Linked DNA regions of Homo sapiens: region 2 is linked to region 1. The links come from fine-mapping of genetic effects on gene expression. A gene starts in region 1. The other region holds a variant in brackets. All regions are shown on one strand. Distances are between the middles of the regions.

Region 1 (16,105 bases):
CTGTTCCGTCCAGCTCACCGGCAGTCAGAGTTTAAGGTTATCTCTCTTGTTCCGTGAACATCACTGTTATCCTGTTCTTTTTTCAAGGTGCCCAGATTTCATATTGTTCAAACACAAATGCTCTACAATTTGTGCAGTTAACACAATCATCACAGGGTCCTGAGGCGACATACATCCTCCTCAGTTTACGAAGATGACGGGATTAAGAGATTAAAGTAAAGACAGGCATAGGAAATCACAAGGGTATTGATTGGGGAACTAATAAATGTCCATGAAATCTTCACAATTTATGTTCTTCTGCCATGGCTTCAGCTGGTCCCTCCGGGGTCCCTGACTTCCCGCAACATCTCTCCCTTTCTTTTTATAATAAATGTGCCATGGCAATGAAGGCTTGTTCGTTCTCTTGATTTTGACGCAGGATTCTTTGACTAGTCTGGCAAACTAAAAACAAGCCGATTAAACAGAGAAACATAATTCCAAAATTTACTACAGTGGAGCCCCCAATAGACTTAATCCAAGTCCTGGGGTTTAATCCAGAAAGATTTTCTGCCACCTGATCTAACGCCTCAGCTCCAGGCACAATGGATAAGTGAGCTTGAGAGGCTTCAAAAATTTGTCTCTTTAATTTAGTTATGTCCAGTGATAAATTATCTTCCCTACCCAGAAGATGTCTTTTGACCATTTCCCATGAATGATCAGTCTCGTTATAGGAATACGGGGTGATGCAGAAATCTCAAGTGTTCCAATCGTACTGCATTTGCATGTGATGCTCGAGACTCACTACCTGATCTCCAAGCCAAATAACAGACTGTCTTAAATCACTAATTTGATTTGCCAATTTTCGATCGATGCCTTGTTGAGAATTCCACATTTGGATGGAATTGGCTTGCCAACCATTAACAAAATGAGCCGCTTGAATGGACTGGTGTAATGCCATTCCGGCAGTGGTGGCCACTGCAGTGACTGTAATTAGGCCCATGATAACAGCAATTAAAGTGAAAATAAATCTCTTAGATCTTTTTAGAATTCACTGTAACACTTCATTAATTAAATGTATTGAAGGGGAGGATTCCCAAGGTCTGGGCAAAGTTACCGGAATCCAGATTCCTTCTTGAGCTCGAACCAACATTACACTTTTCCTGGAATCAAAATGGGAGTTAATACAAGTGTATAAATGACAATTAATGCATTGGACAGTTTGATTGTTCATCCAAATTTTGATATATCTCACTAACAGCATGCAAGGAGGCTTAACAGAACTCTGTATGGAAACAGGTTGGAGGTAGGTAAAGCAGAATGTCTGGATCTACGTTGATACTGAGAGAGGGAGATGGTAGTGGGGACAACAGACAGAATAGTTTCTGCTTCCCATACTTGCAGTCCAGACATGGCAATAGCCAATTTCCAAAGTTCTGGGTGTTCTGGGTCAGAATGGGGAGTATCATATGAGGCCTCGGAGAGGGGGTAATGCCTTTATCTTCCCATTTTAAGGAAAAGAATGAGCTTAACCTCCGATGCAAAGTAGTATGATGATTCTCGTTCTCCTGATAAGAAATAAAATAAGTGCTGGGATTACAGGCATGAGCCACCACACCCAGCCCAAATGGTTGTAATTTTAAACATTACTTATAGAAATTCTAAAATCTGTCAAACAGATTTAATAAGAAATTTGCAGCAGGGAGCAGTGACTCTCACCTGTAATCCCAGTACTTTGGGAGGCTAAGACAGGTGGATCACTTGAAGTCAGGAGTTCAAGACCAGCCCGGACAACATGGCAAAACCTCATGTCTACTAAATGTACAAAAGTTAGCAAGACATGGTGGCAGGCATCTGTAATCCCAGCTACTTGGGAGGATAAGGCAGGAGGATTGCTTGAACCCAGGAGGTAGAGGTTGCAGTGAGCCAAGATCGCGCCACTGCACTCCAGCCTGGGTAACAAGAGGGAGACTTCATCTCAAAGAAAAAAATGAAATAAATAAAATTACAAACACTTGAACTTACAGTTGCACAAAACTGTTGAATTTTATGTGTTGCAAGAAGGCAGAGCAAGATGGCTTAATAGAATCCTCCAGCAGTCATCCCTCCGACAGAAATATCAAACTGAACAACTACATTAAAAAAGCACCTTCATAAGAACCAATAATCAGGTGAGTGATCGCAGTACCTGGTTTATTATCATATTAAGGAAACAGGCACTGAAGAGGGTAAGAAATAGTCTTGAATTGTCAACATCATCCCTCTTCATCCCCTGGCAGTGGCCAATTGGTGTAAAGAGAGAATGGGTGCTCCTGGGGGAGGAAGAATACAATGATTGTGAGACTCTGCATTTGAACTCAGTGCAGCCCTGGCACAGCAGAAAGCCACACAGGGCAGAACTCAGCCAGTAACCCAGAGGGAACATTAGATCAACCCTAGCCAGAGGGGAACTGTCCATTCCAGGAGCTGGAACCCGAGTTCTGGCAAGCCCCACAGGCTAAAGTGCTTTGGAGGCCTAGGTAAACTGAAAGGCAGTGTAGGCCACTGTTGCGAGAAGTCAGGGACCCCATACTTTCCATATAAACCTGCAGGAAAACCATGCCCTAAAAATTTTGAGGGCCCATCTAAAACTTTAATTTGGGAAGACTATGTTAACTCACATGCAGTAATATTAAAAAATGACTCATATGGTTTAGTAATAGACTGGGCGCCAAAGGGCTATTTAAAAAACAATTGCTCCTCTGGTGGAAGGGAATGCCTGGAGGCTACTTATTGAAAGTATGGGGTATGTCCCATTACTCCCCCTTTCATTTGTTTTAAAGGAGAAAGGGAGAGGCCAGAGACCAAATGTCCCGGTTCCTCTGTAGCTGATCTCTCGGGAAGATAAGCAGCCCAGACTTGAGTTTCTAGATGGATATAACCAGGTGCATTTCTGAGGCACAGAGGGTGTTATTTATAACCCATGATAACATTAAATGTAGTGCCTTCTTCTCCTGGTTGAGCAGGGCAACGGTCATCTGTAGCTCCAGGCATCCACAAACTATCGTTAATGTAGATTTCCGCAGGAGCATCAATCCAGGTGAGAGGTCGAATAAGTGGAGGAAAGGGCACATAAGCCCAATAAGAATAATTTTGTGTAGCAGGTAAATAAGTGTGAGAGGAAACTGGTGAGACAGAAAGTATAAGGAGGAGAATCATTAAGTAAAACCTAGTGTAAGCGAGATTCAGTGCTGAAGGAGGAAGAGAAGAACAGAGGGATGTTATTTTCAGGCTAATAGAAATGGTGAGATTTTTTAGGTCTGTAAGGAGAAAAAGAAAGGTAATTAGAAGTGGGATTAGTTAGATGGGTCTCCATTGCCATCAGGGAGGATCGAATCAGACCCATTGTGATTTGGTGTGCCTGCTTCTGAGTTAACAAATCCATCACCTCACGTACTTACCATTTTTTGTGGTGAAAACATTTAAAATCGATCATGTATATATGTTTAACACAGAGGTATTTTTCCCAAGGTTCGGCTGGGCTTAGTTTTCCTAGGAAAACTGGATTACGGTACTTGTAAGTTTAATGGATGTGAAATTGATTGAATTTTAAGAAATTATAGCAAACTATATTCAGTTGAACCTTGGGGAAATATACTTGTAGAAAGATGTTCATTTATTTACAATGCATGTCTGCTATTCCAGGACTCTCATTTTGTAAGCATACTAGAGGAGGTGAATTAGGAGCAGATTAGATCACTTGATACACATTACCTTATATATAAAGAATACATATATATGTATGTGTGTGTGTATGTATCTCTATATATATACATTTATATATATGTATTTATACTTTTTTTTTTTTTTTTTGAGACAAAGTTTCACTCTTTCGCCCAGACTGGAGTGCAGTGGTGCAAGGTGCAATCATAGCTCACTGTAACCTTGAACTCCTGGGCTCAAGCAATCTCCCCTCCTCAGCTTCCCAGACAGCTAGGACTACAAGTGTGCATCACCGCACCTGGCTAATTTTTAAAAAAAGGTTTTTTTTGGCCAGGCGCGGTGGCTCACGTCTGTAATCCCAGCACTTTGGGAGGCCGAGGCGGATCATGAGGTCTGGAGTTCGAGACCATCCTGGCCAACATGGTGAAACTCCATCTCTACTAAAAATACAAAAAATGAGCCGGGCGTGGTGGCATGTGCCTGTAGTCCCAGCTACTCGGGAGGCTGAGGCAGGAGTATCGCTTGAACCTGGGAGGCCGAGGTTGCAGTGAGCCCAGATCTCACCACTGCACTCCAGCCTGGCGACAGACCGAGACTCTATCTCAAAACAAAAACACAAAAAAAACAAAACAACATTTTTTTTTGTAGAGTTGGGGGGTCTCACTACATTGCCCAGACTAGTCTCTAACTCCTGGCCTCAAATGGTCCTCTCACCTCAGCCTCTCAATGCACTAGGATTACAAGTGTGAGCCACCACACTCCAAAATTTTTCAATTAACACATTTATAAATATTCTCAGAGAATGCCAATTTAACTATTAGAGGGAAATCTAGTTTGCCTTATTTCCAAGTTCTCAGTGGGTTGTTTTGGAAGAAAGGAACAGAAACTACTCAAACTAGTTTAATCAATAAAAATAGAAGGTAGAGTTATTGGAATGTAGGGATATCTCATAACTCAAGAGCATTAATCCTTAAGAGTTCAAGGTTTTTTTTTTAAAAAAAAAAAAAAAGTAAAAAAGAACCCAAGAGCAGGAGGAGTAAGTACTGCTAGGCTTCTGAGAAACTGGAAAGGCGATCTGGAAAGGAGTCAGAATTCAAATGGTTTATTTATCTTTGACTCTCTCCTTAGTATCTCAATTTCTTTTTCTTTTTCTTTTTTTTTTTTTTTTTGAGACAGAGTCTTGCTCTGTCATCCAGGCTGGAGTGCAGTGGCACGATCTCAGCTCACTGCAACCTCTGCCTCCCAGTTTCATGCGATTCTCCTGCCTTGGCCTCCTGCGTAGCTGGAGGCTAATGTTTGTATTTTTAGTAGAGATGGGGTTTCACCATGTTGGTCAGGCTGGTCTCGAACTCCTGACCTCAGGTGATGCGCCTGCCTCAGCCTCCGAAAGTGCTGGGATTACAGGCTTGAGCCACCACACCCGACATCAATTTCTTAATCTTTCTGCAGATGTGCTTTCTCTGATTGGACATTCACACACATCTATCTGTGTACTTTGCCCCATAAATTCCTGAGGTCAGACTTGAATATAAAGCCAAGTCTAATTTTCCAGGAGCAGGAAAATGATTGGCCAATTTGGGGCCAGATGAACACTGCTGGTACAACTGGTGGCCAGAAAGGTAAAAGTCATGTGACTACAGTCAGCTAGGAGGAGGGCTGTAGGTTTGCAGATGCTCTAAGGGTGTGGGAAGAACCGGAGGCAAAGGTGTGTAACTTTGATATGGAAGAAAGTTCACTATTATCACAGGTAGTATCTATAATCACTAAGTTAGGTTGTTTCTACATCCAGAAAGCTGCCTGAGTCTGTTCTCTCTGTCATTCCTCTAATTCAGAGGACCCCAACGCCCCAACACAGACCTGTCGCCTATTAGGAACTGGGCTGCACAGCAGGTGAGCAGCTAGCAAGCAAGCATTACTGCCTGAGCTCTGCCTCCTGTCAGATCAAGGAGAGCATTAGATTCTCACAGGAACTCAAAACCTATTTTGAACTGCACCTGTGAGGAATCTAGATTGCACACTCCTTATGGAAATCTAATTGATGATCTTGAGGTGCAACAGTTTCATTCCGAAACCATCCTCTGCCTCATGCCCACCCCCCGAGCCCTGTGGAAAATTGTCTTTCACAGAACAGCTCCCTGGTGCCAAAAAGGTAGAACTGGAATCTAATCCAAATCTTCATCTCTTTGTTGAAATATTGCAAGAACTTCCTTTTTGGTGTCTTCACTTTCACGCTCCTGAAATCTGTTCTTCAACGCCACAAGGTAATAGTGTGAGGATTAACTAAAAACTTTGTCAACTTTAAAGCACTCCACAAATATAAAGTAGTAATAAGGCCATTGCAATGGTTCACACCTGTAATTCCAACACTTTGGGAGGCCAAGGTGGGAGGATCACTTGAGGCCAGGAGTTCAAGGCCAACTTGAACAGAGCGAGATGCTGTCTCAAAAATAAAAAAATAAGGCCGGGTGCGGTGGTTCACACCTGTAATCCCAGCACTTTGGGAGGCCACGGTAGGTGGATCACCTGAGGTCAGGAGTTCGAGACCAGCCTGGCCAACATGGTGAAACCCTGTCTCTACTAAAAATACAAAAAATTAGCTGGGCGTGGTGGCAGGCGCCTGTAATCCCAGTTACTTGGGAGGCTGAGGCAGGAAGACTCGCTTGAATCTGGGAGGTGGGGTTGCAGTGAGCTGATACCACGTCCCTGCACTCCAGCCTGGGCAACAGAGCAAGACTCCATCTAAAATAAATAAATAAATAAATAAATAAAAATAAAAATAAATTGGTAAGTGGAGGGAAAATAGATCTAACCAAATGACTTGTCTTCTTAAAAACTTCAATGATTTCTTCAGTACCTAGAGACCAAAGCTCCTTACCTTTTTTTTTTTTTTTGAGACGGAGTCTTGCTCTGTTGCCCAGGCTGGAGTGCAGTGGCGTGATCTCGCTCACTGCAACCTCCACCTCCCGGGTTCAAGCACTTCTCTGCCTCAGCCTCCCAAAGAGCTGGGATTACAGGCATGCACCACCACGCCCGGCTAATTTTTGTAGTTTTAGTAGAGATGGGGTTTTGCCATCTTGGCCAGGCTGGTCTTGAACTCCTGACCTCGTGATCCGCCCACCTTGGCCTCCCAAAGTTCTGGGATTACAGGCTTGAGCCACCGCGCCTGGCCTCTCCTTACATGTTTTGTTGTTGTCGCTTGTCTTTTGAGACAAGGTCTCACTCTGTAGCCCAGGCTGGAGTGCAGTGGCCCATCATAGCTCACTGCAGCCTTGACGTCCTGAGCTCAAGCAGTCCTCCCACCTCAGCCTCCGGGATAGCTGAGACCACAGGCACAAGCCACCACGCCCAGCTTATTTTTTTTTTTTTTTTTTTTGAGATATGGGGTCCCACTATGTTGCCCAGGCTGGTCTCCAACTCCTGAGCTCAAGCGATCCTCCCCCACCTTGGCTTCCCAAAGTGCTGGGATTACAGGTGTGAGCCACCGTGCAGGCCTTATATGATCTTCATATCCTGAACTAAATGTAACCTTCCAGTTTCGGCACTTGCTCTGGCACTTTTCCTCCCTCGCCAGATAATACTAATCTTTAATCATGTAGTTCGTTTCCATGCCCATACTACCCTATTTGCTTATAATGTCTTCCACTTCGCCCAAGAATCCCTACTCAGCTAGCTTGTGGTGTTGTTTTGACACAGTCTCGCTCTGTCGCCCAGGCTGGAGTACAGCGGCGAGATCTCGGTTGGCTGCAACCTCCTCCTGAGTTCAAGCGATTCTCATGCCTCAGCCTTTCGAGTAGCTAGGATTACAGGCATGTGCCACAAAACCTGGCTAATTTTTGTATTTTTTACTAAAGACGAGGTTTCACCACGTTGGCCAGGTTTATCTCCAACCCCTGACCTCAGGTGATCCGCCTGCCTTGGCCTCCTAAACTGCTGGGATTACTGGCGTGAACCACCGCGCCCGGCCCTACTCAGCCTTTAAAACCGGAATCACGGGTCAAAACTTTCTGGTAAACCACGATACGGTTTAGGTTATGAAATTCAATGCCCCCTTCCTCTGAACTCCTGCAAATCTCCAGTAAAGCACCACAGATTGACGAATATTCCAGCCATTTCCCTCTCCCGTACGCTAGCTCCATTTCCCACTTCTATCCATCTTCTCGAGCTTCCTCAGCTCCTCCACCTCCATGAGGCCTGGAAAGCACCTTGCTCCAGGAATGCGAGTAGGAGGCTCAGAGCGACCAGAAGTGCCAAAAGCTGACATTCAGATACTGCCGAAACAAACCACAAGAGCGCTAGGGCCCCCGCTAATAGTCCAGCTGCGATGGTGAGAACTCGCGGACCCGCCGGCGATGCATGCCGGGAGATGTAGTCCCGGGCCGACGCATTACCTCTTGGGAGTCGTGGTCTTCGATCTGGTAAACAGAAGACGGCAACTCGGTTAAGTCTTCCCCCACCGCCCCCTGAAATCCCTCGCCCCACCCGCGAGGGACTGGGGTAGGAGTAGGGGCGTTGCCGTGGTTAGCCTCGAACTCCTAGGCTCAGACGATACTCTCGCCTCGGCCTCCCGAGCAGCTGGGACTACACGCGTGAGCCACCGCCCCCGGCATAAAGTTTGAATTAGTCCTTACGCAAAAAGGGAAGAGGGCAGTCTGTAAACTCGCGCAGGATCAAGCTCTCGAGCTCCCGTCTTGGGTTAGCGCGCAGGGCGGAAGCGGGGAGAAGGCGGATCCGGGAGGCGGGGATACGTTACGTCGACGCGGGCGTGACCCTGGGCGAGAGGGTTTGGCGGGAATTCTGAAAGCCGCTGGCGGACCGCGCGCAGCGGCCAGAGACCGAGCCCTAAGGAGAGTGCGGCGCTTCCCGAGGCGTGCAGCTGGGAACTGCAACTCATCTGGGTTGTGCGCAGAAGGCTGGGGCAAGCGAGTAGAGAAGTGGAGCGTAAGCCAGGGGCGTTGGGGGCCGTGCGGGTCGGGCGCGTGCCACGCCCGCGGGGTGAAGTCGGAGCGCGGGGCCTGCTGGAGAGAGGAGCGCTGCGGACCGAGGTGAGTGTGTGAGGCGCAGGCTGGGCCCTCCAGAGCCGCGGCTCGTCCTCGCCCACCTGCGTCCTGGCCGGTCCAGTGCTCAGCGGCAGTTGGGGCCTCCGCGCGCAGTGTGAAACCCGGACGTGGCAGGGCGTGTCCGCGCCCGACCGACCCTCAGCTGCTGGGGCGAAAACACAAGTGGACCTCAGTCTTTAGAACTAGGGGAGAAACATTAGAGCCTTTATAGGCAACACCTATTTTATGGGTTCGAGCGAGAAGTCCGAGATCAGAGCGGTGTAGCCACAGCTGTTTAATATCACAGCCAGGGCTTCCGGATTCCTGATCTGTCTTTCCATTACACCGTGCTTAGAAAGTACCAATCTCCGATTGCCAAAACAGTGTTTTCATCATCTAATGCGGAAAACCATTCACATGATGCCTAGAGAATGATCTGAAGTGAGGTTTGGTTTTCTTAAAACTTTTTTTTTGAGATGGAGTCTCGCTCTTCCGCCCAGGCTGGAGTGTAGTGGCGCGATCTCGGCTCACTGCAACCTCCGCCTCCCGGATTCAAGCGATTCTCCTACCTCAGCCTCCCGAGGAGCTGGGATTACAGGCCCCCACCACCACGCCGCCAGGCTGATTTTTGTATTTTTAGTAGAGACGGGGTTTCACCATGTTGGTCAGGCTGGTCTCGAACTTCTGACCTCAGGTTATCCACCCGCCTCTGCCTCCCAAAGTGCTGGGATTACAGCCGTGAGCCACAGCGCCTGGCCCCTGTTTTTTTGTTTGTTTGTTTGTTTTTAACTTCTAAAGCGCAATGTAATATACATGTAGAAAAATTCACATTCACAACTGTATACAACTCCGTGAATTATTACAAAATATACTGGCCGGGCGTCGTGTCTCACGTCTGTAGTCCCAGCACTTTGGGAAGTGGAGGCGGGAGGACGATTGAGCCCAAGAGTTCGAGAACAGCCTGGTCAAGATAGTGAGACCCGCATCTCTACAAATAGGAAAAATTAGCTAGGCATGGTGGCGTGCACCTGTAGGCCCAGCTATTCAGGAGGCTGAGAAGGGAGGATCTAGCCTGGGAGGTATAAGCTGCAGTGAGCTGTGATCAGGCCACTGCACTCCAACCTGGGCGATAGAGCAAGACAAAATGAATATACACCTATGTAATCACCACTTAATAGAATGGTCCTCAGAAGCCTTCCTGTGTAGTATTTAATATTTTCCCCTTTTTACAGTGGTAACTGCTATACTGGTTTCTAATGAGATGAACTAATGTTGCTTGTTTTTGAATTTTATATAAAAATACATCAGGAGTGTTGAGTGTTTCGTTGTTTCACATGCTTGCCAACACGATATTTTTCAGCCTTTTTGATTTTAACTATTCTGCTGGTTACACAGTAATGTCTTAATGTGATTTTAATTTTCCTGATTAATAATGATGTTGGACATCTGTTCATATGTTTTTGCCCATTTTGATATCTTCTGTGATGTGCTTGTTCAAATCTCTTGCCTATTTTTCTATTATCTTTTTCTTACTGATGTGAAGTTCTTTATATACTGGTTATCAGCCCTCAGTTATGTTTGTGCTAAATGTTTTCTCTACTGTGGTTTGACTTGTCACTCTCTTAGTGGTGTCCTTTGATGAATAGAAGTGCTGAATTTATTTTTTTATTATTTATTTATTTATTTATTTTTCCTTTTGAGACAGAGTTTGGCTCTTGTTGCCCAGGCTGGAGTGCAATGGCACAATCTTGGCTCACCGCAACCTCCGCCTCCCGGGTTCAAGCGATTCTCCTGCCTCAGCCTCCCGAGTAGCTGGGATTACAGGCATGTGCCACCACGCCCAGCTAATTTTGTATTTTTCTTTAATAGAGACAGGATTTCTCCATGTTGGTCAGGCTGGTCTTGAACTCCTGAACTTAGGTGATCTGCCCGCCTTGGCCTCCCAAAGTGCTGGGATTGCAGACGTGAGCCACAGTGCCCAGTAGAAGTGCTGAATTTAAATGTAGTTCAGTTTTCAGTCTTTTCCTTTTTGGCTAGTGCGTTATGCATCCAGTTTCAAGAAATCTTTTTCTGTCCCAAGGTTGTGAAAATAATAAGTGTTACTTTGTTTTTGACAGACGATTGTACATATTTATGAGATACAAGATGATATTTCTTTTTTTTTTTTTTTTTTTTTGAGACGGAGTCTCACTCTGTCGCCCAGGCTGGAGTGCAGTGGCGCGATCTTGGCTCACTGCAAGCTCCGCCTCCTGGGTTCACGCCATTCTCCTGTCTCAGCCTGCCACCACGCCCAGCTAATTTTTTGTATTTTTTAGTAGAGACAGGGTTTCACCATGTTAGCCAGGATGGTCTCGATCTCCTGACCTGGTGATCCACCCGCCTTGGCCTCCCAAAGTGCTGGGATTACAGGCGTGAGCCACTCCACCTGGCCCAAGATGATATTTCAATACATATATACATTGTATAATGAATGATCAAATCAGGGTAATCAGCATATCCATCAGTTCACTTAAACACTTGTCATTTCTCTTTGTGATGAGAACATTCAAAATACTCGCTTCTGGCTATTTTGAAGTATACATTACATTAGTGTTTACTGTAGTCACCCTACTGTGAAATAGAACCCTAGAACTTATTCCTCCTATCTAACTGAAACTTTGTGCCTGTTGACCAACCTCTCTCCTTCCTGCCGCCCCCTGCAACAGCTGCATTCTCCTCAGTCTCTGGTTACCACTGTTCTATTTGTTCCTTGTATGAGATGAACTTTTTTTTTTTTGTTTTTTTTTTTGAGACACAGTCTCACTCTGTCATGAGGCTGGAGTACAGTGGCACGATCTCGGCTCACTGCGATCTCTGTCTTCCGGGTTGAAGCCATTTACCTGCCTCAGCCTCCCGAGTAGCTGGGACTACAGGCGTGTGCCACCACACCCTGCTAATATTTGTATTTTTAGTAGGGACGGGGTTTCGCATGTTGGCCGGGATGGTCTTGATCTCCTGACCTGGTGATCTGCCCGCCTCGGCCTCCCAAAGTGCTGGGATCACAGGCATGAGCCACCGCGCCCCGCCAAGATCAACTTTTTTAGATTCTACATATGAGTGAGATCATGCAGTATTTGTCTGCAAACACATTTATAATGTATAATGGGGTATATAAAAATAAGTAAAACTTGGCCCCTACACTGAAGGAATATAAAGCAGGAGAACAGAGAGGCACAATAAGAGAATGGCCTTGGCTTTTCCTAAAGTCTTTTTGATACGACTAGCTAGATAGAAGATGGGGAGAGAGATGCACCTTATTTCTCTAGTGTTTATACTGATAAGCATTTGTATTTTTCAGTAATGGCAATGCAGATGCAGCTTGAAGCAAATGCAGATACTTCAGTGGAAGAAGAAAGCTTTGGCCCACAACCCATTTCACGGTTAGAGGTATGTGGTTAGTTGCTAATTTTGGAATTATATACTAGATTCTTCTACCTAGTGGAAGGTATTACAACCTTTACATAAAATATAGGTTTACTACCAAGGTCAAGACCCAAATTAGACTTTTCAGAAGTGTTGTCAATAATCCTGTGGAAAGGCTGCAGATCATTGCTAAATATGTCTGGCAGGGCCTCTTCCTTTGTCAACAATTCTCTTCCTACTTTATCATTTTTATTTCTGAGAGTTGGACTGTCAGAAACTAAGGCCTAGGATCCCATGGTGGAATCTCTGTGCTGTTTTTGTTTGTTTGTTTGTTTGTTTTTGATGGAGTTTCGCTCTTGTTGCCCAGGCTGGAGTGCAATGGCGTGATCTCGGCTCACCGCAACCTCTGCGTCCCAGGTTCAAGCGATTCTCCTGCCTCAGCCTCCCAAGTAGCTGGAATTACAGGCATGAGCCACCACACCCAGCTAATTTTATATTTTTAGTAGAGACAGGGTTTCTCCATGTTGGTCAGGCTAGTCTCGAACTCCTGACCTCAGGTGATCCACCCTCTTTGGCCTCCCAAAGTGCTGGGATTACAGGCATGGGCCACTGCGCCCAGCCTGTGCTGTTTTTTTGTTTGTTTTTTAAGAAATGGGTCTTAACTGTGTTGACCATGTTGATCTTGAACTCCTGGCCTCAAGCAGTCCACCTGCCTTGGCGTCCCAAACTGCTAGGATTACAGGCATGAGCCACCATGCCTGGCCAAAGCATCCTGTGCTATTTGCACTAAGTATGAAAGTGCTGTTCTGGGAATTATAGCGGCCTGGACCAGTTATGCAAGGAAGACAGGGAAGCACCTTCTCTCCATTAACCTAGATTTGTGCTGTCAGCTGTCATTGGCAGAGAGAAGGGTGTGGTGGTGTTATGGTATAAGAGACAAGCTCCAATTCAGGATTCTGCACAAGAACATTAAGCACCAGAGCTGAGGCCTTACACTATTTCTGCCCATTGTATAGAGACTGCCCTGTGAGTGCAGCTGATTTGGGCTAAGTAGGAGGAAAGCAGAGAAAGACTTGATTCTTCTGTCTCTTTTTTTCATATTTCCCATCTCTGACTAATCTTCAAGACTCTAGAAGTTAGGAGTGCAAAAGGCTAATAAAAAAAAAAGACTCTAGAAGTTACTTAAATGGATTTGTGATAAACATTTGAAAGTTCAGAGTCATAACTTCTGGTGCCATGAGCATCCTTATACTCAAACATGCATATTGCTTAAATATTAATAGCAGACATGGCTTATGTTGGCAAACTAATCTCTCCCCTCTTCTAAATTCTCCCAACCCCTGAATGCACCCACATTCACCTACTAACTCATGTTTTCCCAGAAGTCATGGTTTTGGTGGCTAATGAAACCAAAGCTGACTTGAATATAGGAAGAAAGAGGTGTCTTTGGGTGGTTTGTTTTGAGAAGAGGTATAAAAGTCCCTGACAAAAAGTAGTTTTCCTCACTGTTAATGTCAGTTGTTAGAGCAGAGCTTTCTGGTCATTGTTCAACAAAAAGTATTGACAGGCCAAGATAGTGCTCTTTATATTCTGAGCAGCCTTATCTATTTACCCTACCATAGTGTAAAAATACAGTTTTTTATGTGTGCTTGATGTGGAAAGTGTTGAGCAACACTGTCTTAAAGTGGTCTTGTAGGGCCCAAGGTCTCAGAGATCATTTAGGGTCACAAAAAAAGGTTGGGAGTTACTTTTTAATTCCAATTGCTAATAGGAGTTCTTTTTAATGTACATGGCTTAGTGCTAGTTTAAAATTATTGATTTTGATAATGAAAAGGTTGTTAATTTGTTATTAAGTACCTCATATATAGGGCTCATTTTTCAGCTTTTGCATATAATAACAGTAGGCTCTCTGTATCTCCGGATTCTGTATCAGCAAATTCAACAAACTACGTATCAAAAATTCAATCAACTACATATCAAAAAAAAGTATACAGGAGGATGTACATAGGTTATATGCAGGTAATACGCCATTTTATATAAGGGACTTGAGCATTGTTGGATTTTGTTATCTGCTGGGGGTCCTGGAACCAACTTCCCATCTCCCCCCGCCCCCCCAAGGATTTCAAGGGACAGTTGTATTACAAGTCTTCAAGCACCTCTGTGAAGTATGTAGGACACATAACATCTGTGTTAGATTAGAGAACTAAAGCTTAAATTTATCCATGGTTTTCTTCATTTGCAGCAGTGTGGCATAAATGCCAACGATGTGAAGAAATTGGAAGAAGCTGGATTCCATACTGTGGAGGCTGTTGCCTATGCGCCAAAGAAGGAGCTAATAAATATTAAGGGAATTAGTGAAGCCAAAGCTGATAAAATTCTGGTAAGTACTGCTTACTTAACCTAGGGAGGCATTAGTGGGAATAGTACAAAAGGGAATGTAGTGAAAGACTTCTTCCTTCTATCTCTTATTCTTCGGTCATCTCATTATCCTTTCCAGGGGTGACTGTTACCTGTTTCTTTTCTTCTTTTCTTTTCTTTTCTTTTTTTTTTCTTTCTTTTTTTTTTTTTTTGGAGACGGGTTCTCGCTCTGTCACACAGGGTGGAGTGCAGTGGTGCCATCTCAGCTCACTGCAACCTTCACCTCCCAAGCTCAAGCGATCCTCTCACCTCAGCCTCCCAAGTAGCTGGGACTACACTACAGGCACATGCCACCATGCCGGGGTAGTCTCGAACTCCTGAGCTCAGGCGATTCACCTACCTCAGCCTCCCAAAGTGCTGGATTATAGGTGTGAGCTACTGTGCCTGGCCTATTTATTTTTCTAGCTTCATATAGTTCTTTAACATACATACTTCCCCATGGTTACATTTTGTTTTATGAACCTATTTCTTCAGTGTTTATATAGTTACACAGTTTTATTGCCTTTACCCTTGAAGTTTTATGTAGTATAAAGCAGATTTTTTTTTTTTTTTTTTTTTTTTTTGAGACGGAGTCTCGCTCTGTTGCCAGGCTGGAGTGCAATAGCGTGATCTTGGTCTACTGCACCCTCCGCCTCTCAGGTTCAAGTGATTCTCCTGCCTCAGCCTCCCGAGTAGTTGGGACTACAGGTATGTGCCACCACACCCAGCTAATTTTTGTATTTTTATTAGAGACAGGGTTTCACCACGTTGGCCAGGATGGTCTCGATCTCCTGACCTTGTGATCTGCCCACCTCAGCCTCCTAAAGTGCTGGGATTACAGGTGTGAGCCACCGCGCCCCACCGCAAATATTTATTTATAAAATTGTATTTTCACGTATCGATTACTGTTAGCGTTAGATAAATTTATTGGATTACTCAAATGAATATTTGCTGAAGTGGTTGCTTAATTGGAAATAAGGGTTCTGAGTCCCTAACAGTATTTTTGTTAAAAGATTGTCATATTGACTAAGCCAGTAGGGGTCCCTAAAGTCTTTCTGTTTTCGCTTTTTGGGTATCAGTTTTTGTGAATGAACAAATGCTGACAGGATCTTTTCTTTTTGCCTTGCGAGATCTTGGTTTCAGAAATCAAGTCACTTCTCTGTTTCTATGAACACAACAATGCAAACCTAGAATACATGATTTGAGATGCAATATGGTATAGACTTACGTGTCTTTACTTTTCAATATTTTATGTTCTTTGTTTCTGGCCAGTAAAGATTATGATTGTATTGTTTGTTTTCTGTTTTTTTTTGAGGCAGAGTGTCGCTGTGTCACCCAGGCTGGAGCACAATGGTGCAATTTTGGCTCTGCTCACTGCAACCTCTGCCTTCCGGGTTCAAGTGATTGTCGTGCCTCAGCCTCCCAAGTAGCTGGGATTACAGGCTCCCACCACCACACGTGGCTAATTTTTGTATTTTCAGTTGAGACGGGGTTTCACCATGTTGCCCAGGCTGGTCTCAAACTCCTGGCCTCAAGCAATCTGCCCACCTCAGCCTCCCAAAGTGCTGAAATTACAGGCACTAGCCACTGTG
Region 2 (16,105 bases), 160 kb before region 1:
GATACTCCCACCTTAGTTAGCTTCCTGGGTAGCTGGGATTATAGGCGTGCGCCACCACCCGGCTAATTTTTGTATTTTTTGTAGAAACAGGGTTTTGCCATGTTGCCCAGGCTGGTCTTGAACTCCTGAGCTCAAGCAATCCACCCATCTCAGCCTTCAAAAGTGCTGGGTTTACAGGCATGGGCCACCGCACCTGGCCAGATATTCCTTTAGAGCAATGCAAAGTGGACTGATACAGATGACATGCAAATTTGTGAAGTGTTCCATATTTTTTACTGCATGTTCTCATTTATAAGTGGGAGCTAAATGTGTACACATGAACACAGAGTGTGGAATAGTAGACACTGGAGACTTGGGAGGGTAGGAGGGTGGGAGGTGGGTGAAGGATAGGAAATCAGGGGGTACAATGTGCATTATTTAGATGATGGTTACACTAAAAGCCCAGACTTCAACACTGTGTAATATATCTATGTAACAAAACTTCACCTATACCCCTTAAATTTATATTTCTTTTTTTTTATTTTTTTTTTGAGACAGAGTCTCACTCTGTCACCCAGGCTGGAGTGCAGTGGCGGGACCTCGGCTCACTGCAACCTCCGCCTCCCAGGTTCAAGCGATTCTCCTGCCTCAGCTTCCCGAGTAGCTGATATTACAGGTGTGAGCCACCGTGCCTGGCCAAATTTATATTTTTAAAAAGTAACAAAAAGAATTACAAAAACCAGAGGAGCATTTTTAGGTAAATTAATCTTCATTCCCACAAGACTAGCGCAAGATTGGGTTTAAATTTTGCATAGATTTTGATTTTTGTTGTTGTTGTTGTTTGAGACAGGGTCTTGCTCTGTCACCAAGGCTGGAATGCAGAGGCATGATCACCACTCTCTGCAGCCTCAACCTCCTGAGCTCAAGCAATCCTCCTACCTCAGCCTTCCAAGTAGCTGGCACCACAGACACACATCACCACACTTGGCTAATTTTTTTTAGAGATGGGGTCTATGTTGCTCAGGCTGCTCTCAAACTCCTGACTCAAGCGATCCACCCACCTCGGCTTCCTAAAGATTTTGTGTTTTTTTTTTAAATATGAAAAGACATGTTATTATTATTATTAGTGCATACACCAGATTGCACTGTCTCCAATGGCAAATGAGGCAGAGGGTAATATTTCTCTTTAATTCCCCAAGAACCTCAATATCATCTGTCTTCTGGAGGTTCCGGTTTCTTCTGACATCTGTGCTAATGTCCACGAAGATGCCAACCGTACTTAGCATAAAGAACATTTTGCTAAGTTGTTCTATTATGGGTTCTCGCTCAAGGTGTTCACTTTTTTCTTCTCTAGTTTTCAGCACTTGACCATGTGTTTCTTCATTATTATACACAGGATCTGGTCAAGGGATAGGTTTTGTGCGTTCATATGGAATGTCTATAGAAGGATGGTAACATACTATTGTCCTGGCATCAGGTGTCAAAGCAAATTCTACTTTGCAATTGTAGTCACCTGGAAAAGAAGAGTACGTAGATTTATGACAAACATAAGGCTCCATTTTGGATTGAAGATAAATGTTTCCAGATAGTTCTCTTTGATATCACCCGTCTTACTGCTGCTACTGCCATGTAGCAAGACACTTATCAGGTAGTATGAAAAAAGATGCTTCAAAGAGAATCTGCTTCTGGGCACATTAATTTTCATCCCTGCTTCACAGCTGTTCACCATGAGCCCATCATCTTGTCTCCTTATTTTTGCATAGATCTTAAATTATTTTTACCCAGTTGTAATCATGGACAAATTTGTAGTCTGCTTTTTTTCACTTAACATTAGTTATAAACTGTTCCATACTGCTGCATATTCTTTGTAATTATAATTTTAATGATTTATAATTTAATTGTTTTACTTGAATTTGTTTTCTTTCTTTTTTTTTTTTTTTTTTTTTTTTTGAGAGAGAATCTCACTCTGTCACCCAGGCTGGAATGCAGTGGCATGATCACAGATCACTGCAGCCTCGACTTCCCGGGTTCAGTTGATCCTCCCACTTCAGGCTGGCGCGTGCCACCAGACCTGGCTAATTTTTTTTATTTTTTGTAGAGGTAGGGGGTTTCACCATGTTGCCCAGGCTGGTCTCAAACTCCTGTGCTCAAGCAATCCTCCTGCCTCAGCTTCTCAAAGTGTTGGGATTACAGGCATGAGCCATTGCACCTGGCCAATTTACAATATTATATATCATAATTTCTATTCTCCTGTTGGTGGACATGTAAGAGGAAGAGGATAATGGTTCATCATGAGCTCTGTACCAGGTGCTGCCCACCACAGGCTACATACAGGCATTATCTTGTTTGACCCTCATGATCCTGCTATGCCCCAGGCTCTGTTCTAGTCTTGGGAACACATCAGCAAATTAAATAGACAAAATGGAACTTACATTCTAGTTGGTGTCAGGGTCGGGGGCAGATGTGCAATTAAAAGTATACATAATGCTGAAGAATTAAATGTTGAAGGAGTTTAAATTTTGAAAGTGTTTGCTATACATAATTGTCCTGCATTATTATTATTTTATTTATTTATTTTGAGATGGAGTTTCCCTCTGTTGCCCAGGCTGGAGTGCAGTGGCGTGATCTCAGCTCACTGCAACCTCTGCCTCCTGGGTTCAAGCGATTCTCCTGCCTCAGAAGGAGTAGCTGGGACTACAAGTGCGCACCACCACGCCCGGCTAATTTTTGTATTTTAGTAGAGACGGAGTTTCACCATATTGGCCAAGCTGGTCTCGAACTGCTGACCTTGTAATCCACCCACCTCAGCTCCCAAAGTGCTGGGATTACAGGCATGAGCCACCATGCCTGGCCATTGTCCTGCATTGTTATAAAGAGTTTTCAGCACGTTTTTTAAAAAAGGATACACATAATAAATAAGAAAAGTATGTATTATAAGATGCCAAATAATGTGTAAAAATAGCAGAGTAAGGAGAGTAATGGGTTTAGGAGGAGGGAGTGTTTTCATTTGAAATAGAGTAATTGGGGTAGACCACACCGAGAACATTTGAGCAAAGACTTGGAGGAGATGAGAGCAATCCCTGAATAACACATGAAGAAATCAAATTACTTTTACAATATGTTCTCGCTATGCCGTTAGAAAGCAGGCATTAGAAGGGCTAAGATCCCAAGAGGGGCTGGTGAAACTTGTATATATCTACATCATTGGCTAAAATATAAATCAGCCCAGTTCTTTTGTGAAGCATTATGTCAATTCACACAGCCATTTAAAATATTAATGACTTTTGACCTGGTAATCCCACTCCTGGGAATTTGTCCTAAGGAAATTTTTGCAAAGAAGAGAAAAAGCTCTATGTGGAAAGATCACTGCAGCAGTATCCATTTGTCTTAGTCAGGTCTAACCTTAGTCAGGTTTATTTCTCACAGTTCCGAGGTTGGAGTCTGAGAATTGGGGGCCAGCAGGGTCCAGTTCTGGGAGAAAGCCCTCTTCTGGGTCTCCAGCTGTATTAATCCATTCTCACACTGCTATAAGAACATACTGGAGACTGGGTAATTTGTACAGGAAAGAGGTTTAATTGGCTCACAGTTTGGCATGGCTGGGGACGCCTCAAGAAACTTACATTCATGGCAGAAGGGGAAGCAAATATGTTCTTCTTCACAGGGCAGCAGGAAGGAGAATGAGAGCCGACTGAAGGGGGAAGCCCCTTCTAAAACCATCAGATCTCGTGAGAACTTACTATCACAAGAATAGCATGAGGGAAACTGCCCCCTTGATTCAGTTACCTCCCGCTGGGTCCTTCCCACCACACGTGGGGATTGTGGGAACTACAATTCAAGATGAGACTTGGATTGGGACACAGCCAAACCATATCACCAACTGTCTACTTCTCATTGTATCCTCACATGGCAGAAGAGAACTAGCTAGGTCTCTGGCCCCTTTTTGTAAGGGCACTAATCCCATTGATAAAGGGTCCACTCTCATGACCTAATTACCTCCCCAAAGTTCCATCTCCATATACCATCACATCAGGATTAGTGTTTCAACATGTATATTTTAGAGGGACACAAACACACAGTCCATTGCACCATCAAAGTGAGGAAGTGATGGGCTCAGAATGGTCTTGGAGTCAGATGTCAGGGTCTGAAGGCTTGGCTGTATGATCTGCCACTTGGTATCTGTGTGGTCTTGGGTTTAGTGACTTGATCTTCCCGAGCCCATGCCTGCCGTGATGGAAGGAAATCAGTTTGGGAAAGTCCTGGGGGACCAGACTGTGGAGGGTCTTGACTGCTAAGCCAGCGACTCCAGGCTCTGTGCAGTCAGCAGGAGAATCATTACAGGTATTTGATCAGAGCTGTGCATCAGGAAGATTAACGTGACGGTGGCATATAAGATGAATGGAATGGGGGAGAATGCAGAGGTGGGGAGGCCACTTAGGAGACTTCTGCAGTAGTCTACATGAGAGGCAATGACTAATTAAATGAAACAGCCCAAACTGTATGAGCACCTTGTAGGTGATGAGCCATTATCATAGATCTCCAGCCTCTCCATAGCATCTGTTTTAAAGTCTGCACTGAACAGAAATATTACAGAATAATGCTTTATATTTCTAACCCTTTGCAGTTCAAAAAGTGCTTTCATGAGCATTCTCTCATTTGATCTAGGGTGTTTACAAATTTATATTTTGAAGGAGTTTTTCCACATATTGAAATTGGGCCTATAGATTTATAGTTTTCAGGGCCCGCCCCTTCTCTCCTCCTCCACTCAGCTTCCTTTCGTTCAGTCTTCAGGCACTTCATGGTTCTTTATTCCTTTTCACAACCAAAAAAAAAAAAGAAAAAAAATAGTGCATGCTGAACAACACACCAGGCTCCTTGCTAAGTCTCTCCAAAAGCAGGGAAGTCATCAGTGTGCGGGATTTGAGCACATGTGGTTTATTTAATCATTCGTTCATCTTTCTCTGATTGCAGTGGAGTTTCACACGTTCCACCATATGCTGTCCCTGAAATGCTCTGCACACACTAGTGAGAGCCCATGAGGGGGCCTAGCCTTTGCCTTCCCTCCTTGTCTGCCAGGATTGAAGGAGGAAATCAGGTTGGGAAAGTCCTGTGGGACCAAATTGTGGAGGAGCTTGACTGCTAAGCCAAGGACTCCAGACTCTATGCTGTCAGCAAGAGAAACATAGGTATTTGATCAGAGCTGCCCATGAGGAAGGTTAATCCAGCAGCGACTCCCTTAATCCAGCAGTGACTCCCTCCAGCTTCAGCCCTTCCCCAGTCTCAGGGTTGGAGGGAGTGTCTTTTGCTGGAGTCCCCCAAAGGGGTCCCAAGTCACCAGGAGACACAGGACTAGCGATCACCCAGGAGGCCTGCAGCCTGGGTCTCCACTGTGATTGAGGCTTCCTAACTCTGGCTTCTTGGGCTTCCAGAAGCACTAATGAGCAGGGCTGAGCAGTAATTAAGACTGTGCTCTGTTCCACATCATCACGCAGCACAGCTGCAACTGCTGGGAGGAAGGGGAAGGAGAGAAGACCGGGAAGATGCCTTTAGCCCTGTCTTCCCACTCTGAACCTACTTGCTCTCAGGCTCTCCAGTGCAGCAAGGAGGGGTTGGTAAAGCCATGGGATGAGGGAACAGCTACAGGAGATGGCTGCCCAGGGCTGGGGAAATAGCGTTCAGACACCAGCCAGCTGTTGCTGCTCCATTCTGCATCCCAGGTGGGGTGCCAATGGGCCAAGCCATGATTTTCTCAGAGGTGAGGACCCCTGTCTTGCAACCAGCCTGGCACTACAGGCCCTGCAGCAGGAGGGGGCTGTGATCTGGCCAGGGGGAGCTGGGTGGAGGACGAGTATGACACATGAAATTATGAGTCTCGGACCTTCTCTGGCTCACATCCCAGAACAGGGGCCTCTCTTGGCAAGGGCCCACTGCAAGAACAAGTACTCAATGAGCAACACAGAGCCAAGCTCTGGAGGTTCACAGGTCACACTACAAGCCAGTTCATTCCACGGAACACACTCTCCAGTGGAGAAGTGGAGGTCAAAACAGAGTCATGACTGCTACGATGGTGATGAGAAAAAGTTCCATGGGGCCACAGAGTCACCTAGGGTCGACTGAGGACAGCTTCACTTATATGGTGGCACTTGAACTGAACCTTGAAGTAGAAGAGGGATTCACCAGAAAATATGGTTTTGGCAAAGGGAATAGAGAACAAAGGCAGGTGGCATGAGATAGTCAGCTGCCAGGAGACGTGGTGGGCCTGGCCCAGAGCATGAGTGGAGCGAGAAGGGAAGGATTCTGGAGAAAGGAACCAAGAGAATCTAGAATTCTAAAGGACCACCAGGGGCTCCAGGCCTGGCAGGAGCAACTAACAGGATGACCCACCTTCCCCAACTTACACCACCTCAGGCGCTGGGCAGATGCTCTGTGACTTTATCAGTATCCCTGGGGAGTGGTGCCAGCCCCAGGTGCTGAGCTGGAGGGGGGATCACAGAGGAATCAAGGGACTCAAGGAGGGAAGGCAGCTGGAGGGAAGGGGCTTGGGCAGAACGAAAGAGGAAGGGGCTTGGCCCTGGGCTCTCATCCACTCCTGAAGCCCATGCAGGGAACAGTGAATGATGCAGTGCCTGTGTCCCAAGGTCCCAGCCTCGTGTGGGACCATCGGGGCACTAGCAGCCTTCCTGTCTCCTACCCCTTGCTCTGGGGGCCACGGGTACATGAAGGTTTCCAGAACCCAGGGAAGAGGCCAGAGGTTCAGTAATAGCTCTACAGGAGCATAACTAGAGAGTGATGACCAACTCCCAAAATACAGAATGTTTATTTTGAGCTCCACAATACATGTCAGTCAGAGAAAGGTTCGAGTCTCAAAAATGCTGGCTCTTGGCCAGACGCGTTGGCTCATGCCTGTAATCCCAGCACTTTGGGAGGCTGAGGTGGGCGGATCACTTGAGGTCAGGAGTTCAAGACCAACCTGGCCAACATGGTGAAACCCCGTCTCTACTAAAAATAGAAAAATTAGCCAGGCATGGCAGTGGGCACCTGTAATCTCAGCTACTGGGGAGGCTGAGGCAGGAGAATTGCTTGAACCTGGGAGGTGGAGGTTGCAGTGAGCCGAGATGGTGCCACTGCATTCCAGCCTGGGTGATAGAGTAAGACTCCGCCTCAGAAAAAAAAGCTGGAGCTTCAGTAATGCTGACCACTTTTAAATATATGTAATCAGCACTCATTTCAAATAGTCTTTTAGCAGCATGCTAACTTATGACTACAAGGTCTGCGGTCCCCTCTCCTGCCAAGTGTCCCCTTCCCCTGTACAAGTGGCCCAGAGGCAGTTCTCCAAGGGGATTTGGGGACTGTACTCCTGTATAAAAGAAAGCCTGTGGTGCTGCTGTGTTAAGTTACCCACCTATTGGCTGGTGAGTGCCCCCTTCATGTCTTTCCTGAAGGTAGATTTTCAGTAAATAAGAAGACCACATTTTTTATTCTGAGGCTATGGTCTTGTTTTCCATAGCAGTGTGTCCCAGAAAGCTCGAGATCTCTTGCATGGCCATGATTTGAAAGTCTGGAAATGGGATCCACTGGTAAGCTATGTTCTCCATGGAGCTCACCTGAGGCTGCCCTGCACCCCTCGCCTCTCCCTCAAGGGGTCACAGGGCACCTGTGGGCACCTCTTTCTGCTGCCTGTATGTCCGCCCCAATAGGAGAAAGAGGGGGCATAGAGGGAAATGAGTCTCCTTCACTGGTTCGAATTAGCGGGAAGCCTGTGAGTCCAAGCCCCCCTCAAATTCAGGCAACGACCAATCCGGCTTCCCTTTCTGTGCCCTTGTCAGAGAAGAGGCCGCTGGGCCCAGGCCTGTCCCTTTCCTCCAACCTGGCAGGCATGGGAAGCAACTGTGGAGGAATTTTAGAGCTGGGAGAAGCAGAGGGAGGATTGGAAAGCCTTTTATTTTCTTTGAACTTTTCCATTTAAAATATTTCTATTTTTAAAAGAATAATTTGGTTCTTTTTAATTTAGCATGTTTTCCTTAGAGCAATAAAGGCTTTTGCAATATGGAAAAGGTGACATTTGATCTGAAGGAGTCTGGGGGAGCTCTGAGTATAGGGAACTGACCTTTAGTACCCACCCATGAGCGCTGCCAACTGGGGGCCTGAGGTCTAGTGCTTGCCACAGGTGGGCTCACCGCAGGAGCCTGCTGGTGACCAGCCTGTCCCTCTTCCCATGGGTTCTCTAGCTGGCTCTGACTAAAGCCCTGTCTCTCTCTTGGCTCTCTCGCCAGCTGTCCCACTTCTCAGCTTCTCCCTTTCTTCATTCAGCCCAGCCCAGAAGCCCTGAGGGCTGGGCCAGAGGGAAGTAGTTGTTGCTGTTTCTCCCCAGCTCCCGCTCAAACCTGACACCACAGAAAGGTCAATCCCACATGGTTCTGCACATCCCTGCCTGGCCCGCCCTGGCTGTTACCATGACGACTGCTGGGCTGGAAATGTCCTTCGCCACCTCTGCTCAGCACACTGGTGGCTGTCCCACGCTCCATCCTCAGAAAAGCTGCTGCTGCCAGGGGTTCTGGAGTTACAGGGCCTATGGGAATAAGACAGACCGACAGAGACGAGGAAGATAGACAGATACAGTCAGAGGCACACACTAACAGAGTCAAAGAGAGACAGGCATACATAGGAGCACCGAGAGTGCGAAGGTGCGAGGAAGTGAGGTGTCGACACAGCCTCAGCCGTGCAGGACTGCAGGAAAAATAAAGCAAAGTGGAGCCTGAGACAGAGACAAGAGACAAACGGAGGCACAGGGGACACGGGGGCCCGTGGCACCACAGCAAGAGGCCAGGCAGAGGAAGAGAGGAAAAGCAGAGACCAAGGCAGTCAGCTCTCCGCTGCCCCTGCTCCCATCCCAGGAAATTTCCTTGCCCAATAGGTCTCTCTTGGCCTCCTGCTCTCTGAGATGTCAGGCAGGGTCTGTCTGAGTTGATTTGTTGGCCAGGCTGTTCCTCTGGCTGGACAACATTTGCCACCTTAAGAGGGGCCCTCCCCTAATAAGAGTGATCAAACTGTTGCCACACACACACACACACACACACACACACACACACACACACCCCGCTCCTTGCCCTTGATTCCATGTCACCCCAAACTCATCATAAATACCTACTCAGCCTCACTTCGCCCAGGTGGTGAAATGGGCATTGGAACAGTGTGAAGGGTTGATTTTCAAATTGCGGCAAAATCTAGGGAATAAGTGTGAACCTCAGAGATGATGATGCCCCTGGAGGTAATGAATGGGCAAGAGGAGGGAAAAGACAGACTGAACAGTGAGTACCAGACAAGAGTGTGGGGCCCAGAGGGTGGGAGAAGGGATCAGGGAAGAGAGAGACAGGCTCAGAGCTCTGACTAGG[G/A]CAATCCAGAGGAGTGGTAACAGGAGGGCTGGGCCAACTGGATTGGCCTTTAGTGCCTGGCAGGGAACACTGCCTCTAACATCAGTGCCATGATTTCCCATCTTTGAAGTGTCTCCAAGGCTTTGAGGGAGGCTTCTCAGGGTCTTTGAATTCTTTGTCGTTCTTCTTAGCATTTTTTTCTTTTTCTTTTTCTTTTTTTTTTTTTTTGAGGTGGCGTCTCGCTCTGTTGTGCAGGCTGGAGAGCAATGGCGTGATATCGGCTCACTGCAACCTCCGCCTCCTGGGTTCAAGCTATTCTCCTTCTTCAGCCTCCCGAGTAGCTGGGATTACAGGCGCCTGCCACCATGCCTGGGTAATTTTTTGTATTTTTAGTAGAAACAGGGTTTCACCATGCTGGCCAGGCTGGTCTCCAACTCCTGGCCTCAGGTGATCTGCCTGCCTTGGCCTCCCAAAGTGCTGGGATTACAGGTGTGAGCCACTGCACCCAGCCCAGCATTTTCTTCTTAGAAAATGATTAGGCTGTCAATACAGGAAACTCTGGGGCCGGGCCAGTCTCTCATCTATCCTAACCTTGACCACAGTGTGAAAGGACAGTAGAGTCAGTGCCCCTAATGTCACCATGTTCCAAGCTCACATATGAGTGTTGAACAGGTGCCAGCCTGGAGCGTCCATTGCCCTGGTGCCCTCAGTCCAGAGAGCCCAGTGAGAAGCTGGGCCAAGAAGGAAGACTTGAACCCAAGAGAGCAGTGTGTGGACATTCAGACTAGGCTGGGCTGAACTCACCCCCGGGGAGAACCACTTCCCACACTGGGCCACAGAGACCAAAATGTCAAAACCAAAGGTCCCGCACAGCCCTGGAAGGCGGATCCTGGCCTGGGCGGGAAAGAGACTGTGCCAGATGCTCACGCGCTGCCTCACATCCCTCCAGCCCATTTCTGTGACCAGCCGCAGCTGCAGCGGATGCTTCTGGTACATGCTCAGTTTCCCTCCTCTCTCCTCTGCGTGAGGCTTTTCTTAGCCCCTGCAGGGCTGCCTGAAAGTGGCAGGGGCTTAATACCTCCAAAGAGCAAACCTCAACCAATGAAGGATGGGCACTGGTGGAACTGCAGCCCAGATGTGCCCCGTCAGTCAGTGGCAAAATTCTGAGCTGTAATATTTTTTTTTTTTTTTTTGAGACGGAGTCTCGCTCTGTCACCCAGGCTGGAGTGCAGTGGCTCCATCTCGGCTCACTGCAACCTCCGCCTCCCGGGTTCAAGCAATTCTCCTGTCTCATCCTCCCAAGTAGCTGGGACTATGGGCACACACCACCAACCCGGCTAATTTTTGTATTTTTAGTAGAGACATGGTTTTGCCATGTTGGCCAGGCTGGTCTCGAACTCCTGACCTCAGGTGATCCACCCGCCTCAGCCTCCCACAGTGTTGGGATTACAGGCCACCGCGCTTAGCCTAAGCCATAATCTTTATGTCTCCTCAGAGTGATCCCAGGGCGACAGCCCTAACTACCCACAGTGGACCTACTCAACACAGGGAGCTGTCTCATTCTCCTCCCTCCCTCACTCCTGCTCACCCCCTAAAATCAGCCACCTACATACAGGTCCTTGTCTCAAGGTACACGTTCAGAGAACATAAAACAGCACAAGAGCGACCTTTTTGTGATCTTCCAACCCAAGAGTCTGTCCCTCAGGGTTGAGCTAAGATAAGAACTGTTGGAGGGCTCTGCCTCTGACCACTGACTGGTAGGTGATCAGGTGTTTGTCATTATTATCTAGGGAGGAGAAAGAAGAACTCACCAGCTCTCCCTCCCAAATGCTGGGGAGACCAGGGCTGACTTAACAGCAGCAAGCCCCCATAGGTCTCCAGTAGCCAACCACAGATTTTCATAATTGGAAAGGACCTTAGGGGTGACCTGATCCAACTTTCTACACAATGCAGGAATCCCCTTTACAACCTTTCTGACATCTGCTGACACACCTCCAGTGACAGGGAATTACTATCTTCTACAAGGCCACCCTATTGTTGAACAGCTATTAGAAAGTTCTTAACACTGAATGGTAATTGGTCTTCCTGAAACTCCCTGCCATTGGTCCTAGTTTGTCCTTTGTACTTCAGTGTGTCTCAGCTTTCTACCCAATACTCCTTCAAATATTTTAAAGCCAACCGGGTCTCTCTTAAATCTCTTTTCTATGGAAAACAATCTTATTGTCTTGTCCTGTCTTCAAATAACTCGATCTGAGCCTGCTCACCCTGGACCCCTCCTCTAGGGAGCATTGCAGTTTGTCGATGTTCCTCTGTAGGAAAAGACCCTGTTGCAAGAATGGCACCACCTTGAAGCAAAACTGCCATAATGACTGATGTTTGACTCCTGCATACCAAGGCATTCCTGTGGCAAGGTCAAGAAACAATGCCTGGGCCGGGCGCAGTGGCTCATGCCTGTAATCCCAGCACTTTGGGAGGCTGAGGCGGGAGGATCACGAGGTCAGGAGATTGAGACCATCCTGGCTAATACGGTGAAACCCCGTCTCTACTAAAAAATACAAAAAATTAGCCGGGCATGGTGGCAGGCACCTGTAGTCCCAGCTACTCAGGAGGTTGAGGCAGGAGAATGGTGTGAACCCGGGAGCAGAGGTTGCCACTGCACTCCAGCCTGGGGGACAGAGCGAGACTTTGTCTCAAAAGAAAAAAAAAAAAAAGATGCCTGGCCAGGTGGGGTGGCTCATGCCTATAATCCCAACACTTTGGAAGGCCAAGGTAGGAGGATTGTTTGAGCCCAGGAGTATGAGACCAGCCTGGGCAACATACTGAGACTTTTCTTAAAAAAAAAAAAAAATTAGCCAGGGGTATAGTCACAGCAAACTCAGGAGGCTGAGGAGGGAGGACAGCTTGAGCCCGGGAGGTTGAGGCTGCAATAAGCTGTGATAATGCCACTACACTCTAGCCTGGGTGACAGAGCCAGACTCTGTCTAAAAAAAAAAACAAAATGGAAAAGAAAGAGAAAAAAGAAAAGAAAGAATGCCTGTAGCATAAATAACCCCTCATAAAGATGCTTATCTAACCTCCCCAGTGGTCATGAAACTTGCAATAAAGTCTGAGGTGTGACCAGCTGCACATGTTTTCCCCTAAAAACTTGTTATACAAAGGATACTTTCTGGAGGGCGGGCATGGAAACCACCATCTCGTGACCAACCAAGGTATGGCTTCTGTGCATAAGTTTCTATTAAGCATTTATCTCTGAGAAACTAGATTCGTCAGCCTCTCTCTCTGTTTTGTTTTTGTTGTTGTTGTTGTTGTTTTTTTGAGACAGAGTCCCACTCTGTCGCCCAGGCTGGAATGCAGTGGCATGATCTTGGCTCACTGCAACCTCTGCCTCCCAGGTTCAAGAGATTCTTCTGCCTCAGCCTCCTAAGTAGCTGGGAGTACAGGCGCACGCCACCGTGCCCAGCTAATTTTTGTATTTTTAGTAGAAATGGAGTTTCCCCATATTGGCCAGGCTGGTCTCAAACTCCTAACCTCGTGATCCACCCACCTCAGCCTCCCAAAGTGCTGGGATTACAGGTATGAGCCACTGCACCCGGGCTTGTCAGCCTGTTTCTTTGGCCCCTCAGCTCTCTTGGCCTTTAGGGGTAGGTTTGCATAGACCTGCTCACTGCAGAACATCCTCTTGCAATGTGGTGCCCAGACGATGCTTTCAGAGAGGCATGACCACTGCAGAATATATTTTTACACTACTATGTCCCAGGTACACAGGTACATTTCCACTATTGATTCCTAGAATTATAACTTTTTTTTAGCAGCACATAACACTGCTGACTCCATTGAACTGTTAAGACACTGAACACCTGTTTGGGGTTTTCCATACCACTTTCCCCTTTCTTCAGCCAACAGCAATCCTCTTTCACTTCCCATTCTCATATGGTTCTGGTGGGACTGTTTACCACAGTATCCTGTACCCCTAACCATAGATCTTGCCCTTGTCATAGTCAGTGCTCCAATGATGAGCATGTGACCCAGGCCAAGCCAATCTGAGTCCCTCCCCTGGAATGTATTTATTTATTTGAGACAGGATCTTGCTCTGTCGCCCAGGATAGGGTGCGGTAGGGCAATCATAGCTCACTGCAGCCTCAACCTCCTGGGCTCAAGCAATCCTCCCACCTCAGCATCCCGAGTAGCTGGACTACAGGCATGCAGTACCACGCCAGGCTAATTTTTAAATTTTTTTTTTGTAGAGACGGGGTCTCTTTCTGTTGCCCAGGCTGGTCTCAAACTCCTGGGCTCAAGTGATCCTCCCACCTTGGCCTCCCAAAGTGCTGGGATTGTTAAGCCTAAACCACTGTGCGGAGCCCCCTGGCATCTATTATATGGGGTTGGAAAGTGTTATCTTTCCTCTGGACTTCCTAAACTGGAATCATGTCAGCCCAGAGCTCCCTGTGCTATACCAACACACAGAGAGAGTCAACAGTGGGAGGAAGAGAGGCTAAAGATACTGCTGGAGTCCTGAGGTCCAGCTAACTGAAGCCAGCTCTATATGTCTTAGACTAGAATTGAGTCCGGCTTGGATTTTTTTTTTTCAACAGCCTTGGAAAACTTTCCAGAGTCTGGCTTCTTGGCTTCTGTCACTAGAACAAACTAATAAATACTCTGTTCTTCTCTGTCCTCTAGTTGTGTAGTTAATTTCTGATCCCAAATGAAAGATTTCACATTTATCTGTATCATGTTTCATACTTTGTCCCATCACTCTAGTCTATAGAAAAATTTTAGAATTGTTATTCTTTTATTCAATTACCTACTCCTCTCACTTTTGATAAGGTTACCTTCTATTCACTCAACCAAATCATTGATAAAGATGTTGAGCTGAACAGAGGAAAAAGAAACCAACAACATGTCAGTTTATCAATCCAAGAGTTTACCTTTGGGATGATTGTTCTAACAACTGTGGGTCTCCTCTACCATACTCTTACCCAATGTACACTCCGCATCCTGTCTGCCTTGATCAGGCACCATGCTGAAGACCACACTGCACCTTGGCATTCTGCTAAGCCAATATTTGATGGTCTCATCCCCAAAGGATGTAAGATTAAAGAGCCAAAACTGGTCCTGGAAATATCTGTTCTTTAAAATGCTCATAAACTCTCAGTAACCTATCTGCTTTCTTCTGCACACATACACACACACACACACACAATCCCTCTCACCTTTGCCTCCTCCCTTTCTACTTATCTGCTAAAGAAGTAATTTTTAAAAGTGGATTACGTCAAAATGAAGGGAGGAGAGAGTCAGTTTGTTTGGGAAAAGAAAACCTTTAGAGCAATGTGTGACACAACACTTGGGACAGAGGAGGTGGAGAGAATGGGGGGAGATGAACATCTCTCTGCCACACATTGACTAATAGGAATAGTACATTGAGGGCTTAGGAAAGGCTGGGGCTGGAGGCTAGGGAATCGAGGAGCAAAGGCCCACTACTGTTCCACTTTGGCCTGTAGGAGGTGGTGTGGGGTACCAGCAGAGAGCACAGGCACTGGAGAGCTAGGCTTGGCTCTCCATCCTGGCACCACCACCTGCTAACCACCCACTACTACCTGCTGAGAGCCTGCAGCTCCCAAGACAGACACTCAGGTGCCACACTTCCCTCCACTCAGTGACCAAGCCTCAGTGGTTCTCCTTGCAAATGCTCCCATATCCACTTCTCTCTAGCCTTGCCGCCACACCTCATTCATGTAACTATCATCTCTTCAAAGATTTATTCTGCCTCATTCTCTCTCTCTTCACCTTCTGAGGCTGGAATCACATGTATATTAGACTGTTATTGTCCCACAGCTCTTATAGGTTTTGCTTTGTTTTGCTTTTCCCCCATCCCAGTTTCTCTTTGTGTTTTAGTTCAGAGAATTTTTATTGACCAGTTCAAGTTCACTGGTTCTTCACCTATGCCTACCTACTGAAAAGCCTGTGGAAGCAATTCATCTCTAATATCATGTTTATTTCTAGCATTTCCATTTGACTTTATTTTTTCTTTTTCTTTCCTTTTTTTTTTTTTTCTGAGATAGGGTCTCACCCTGTCACCCAGGCTGGAGGGCAGTGGCATGATCTTGGCTCACTGCAACCTCCGCCTTCTGGGTTCAAGTGATTCTCTTGCCTCAGCCTCCCAAGTAGCTGGGACCACAGGCACGAGCCACCATGCCTGGCTAATTTCTGTATTTTTTGGTGAGATGAGGTCTCATGTTGCCCAGGCTGGTCTCAAACTCCTGTGCTCATGTGCTCCTCCTGCCTTGGCCTCCCAAAGTGCTGGTATTACAGGCATGAGCCACCACGTCCAGCCCCATTTCACTTTCTCTTAGTTTCCATGTCTCTGCCAAAATTCCCTATCTGTTCATGCAAGTTGCCCACCCTTCCCCACCAGACCCCATAGTAATTATAATTATTTTAAGTCCCTCTGTGATAGTTCCAACATCTGTGTCATTTGTGAGTCTGGTTCTGTTGATTCATCTTCTGATAATGGATTGGGTTGTTTTCTTCTTGTCTTTTTGTGTGTTTTGCAATTTTTTTTTTTTTGAGACAGTCTTGCTCTGTTGCCCAGGCTGGAGTGTAGTGGGGCCATCTCAGCTCACTGCAACCTCACCCTCCCAGGTTCAAGTGATTCTCCTGCCTCAGCCTGTGGAGTAGCTGGGACTACAGGCACACACCACCAACACCTGGCTAATTTTTGTATTTTTAGTAGAGATGGGGTTTCGCCATGTTGACCAGGC

What was found. PIP is the estimated chance that this variant, and not a neighbour inherited with it, causes the effect.
Region 2: its variant is the best candidate, but not a certain one, in a credible set for the expression of RAD51 in blood mononuclear cells (TOPMed, PIP 0.77).

Annotation. Positions count from the first base shown.
Region 1 is chr15:40,686,706-40,702,810 of GRCh38, forward strand. It overlaps RAD51 (RAD51 recombinase), which reads left to right and starts at 8,469. Exons shown (of 10, transcript NM_002875.5): 1 at 8,469-8,720; 2 at 12,052-12,140; 3 at 14,359-14,496. The coding sequence starts at 12,054. RAD51-AS1 (RAD51 antisense RNA 1) reads right to left here and starts at 8,400. Exons shown (of 2, transcript NR_040058.1): 1 at 8,307-8,400; 2 at 7,029-8,090. RefSeq lists enhancers at 7,459-7,638, 7,521-8,118, 7,999-8,148, 8,619-8,678, 8,716-9,313 and 1 more.
Region 2 is chr15:40,530,811-40,546,915 of GRCh38, forward strand. It overlaps a transcript of CCDC32 not described here and the pseudogene MRPL42P5. Among named protein-coding and RNA genes, the nearest start is that of CCDC32, 26 kb to the right of the region's middle. RefSeq lists a silencer at 12,877-12,976 and an enhancer at 13,127-13,226. The variant G/A (reference allele first, on the strand shown) is at 9,369.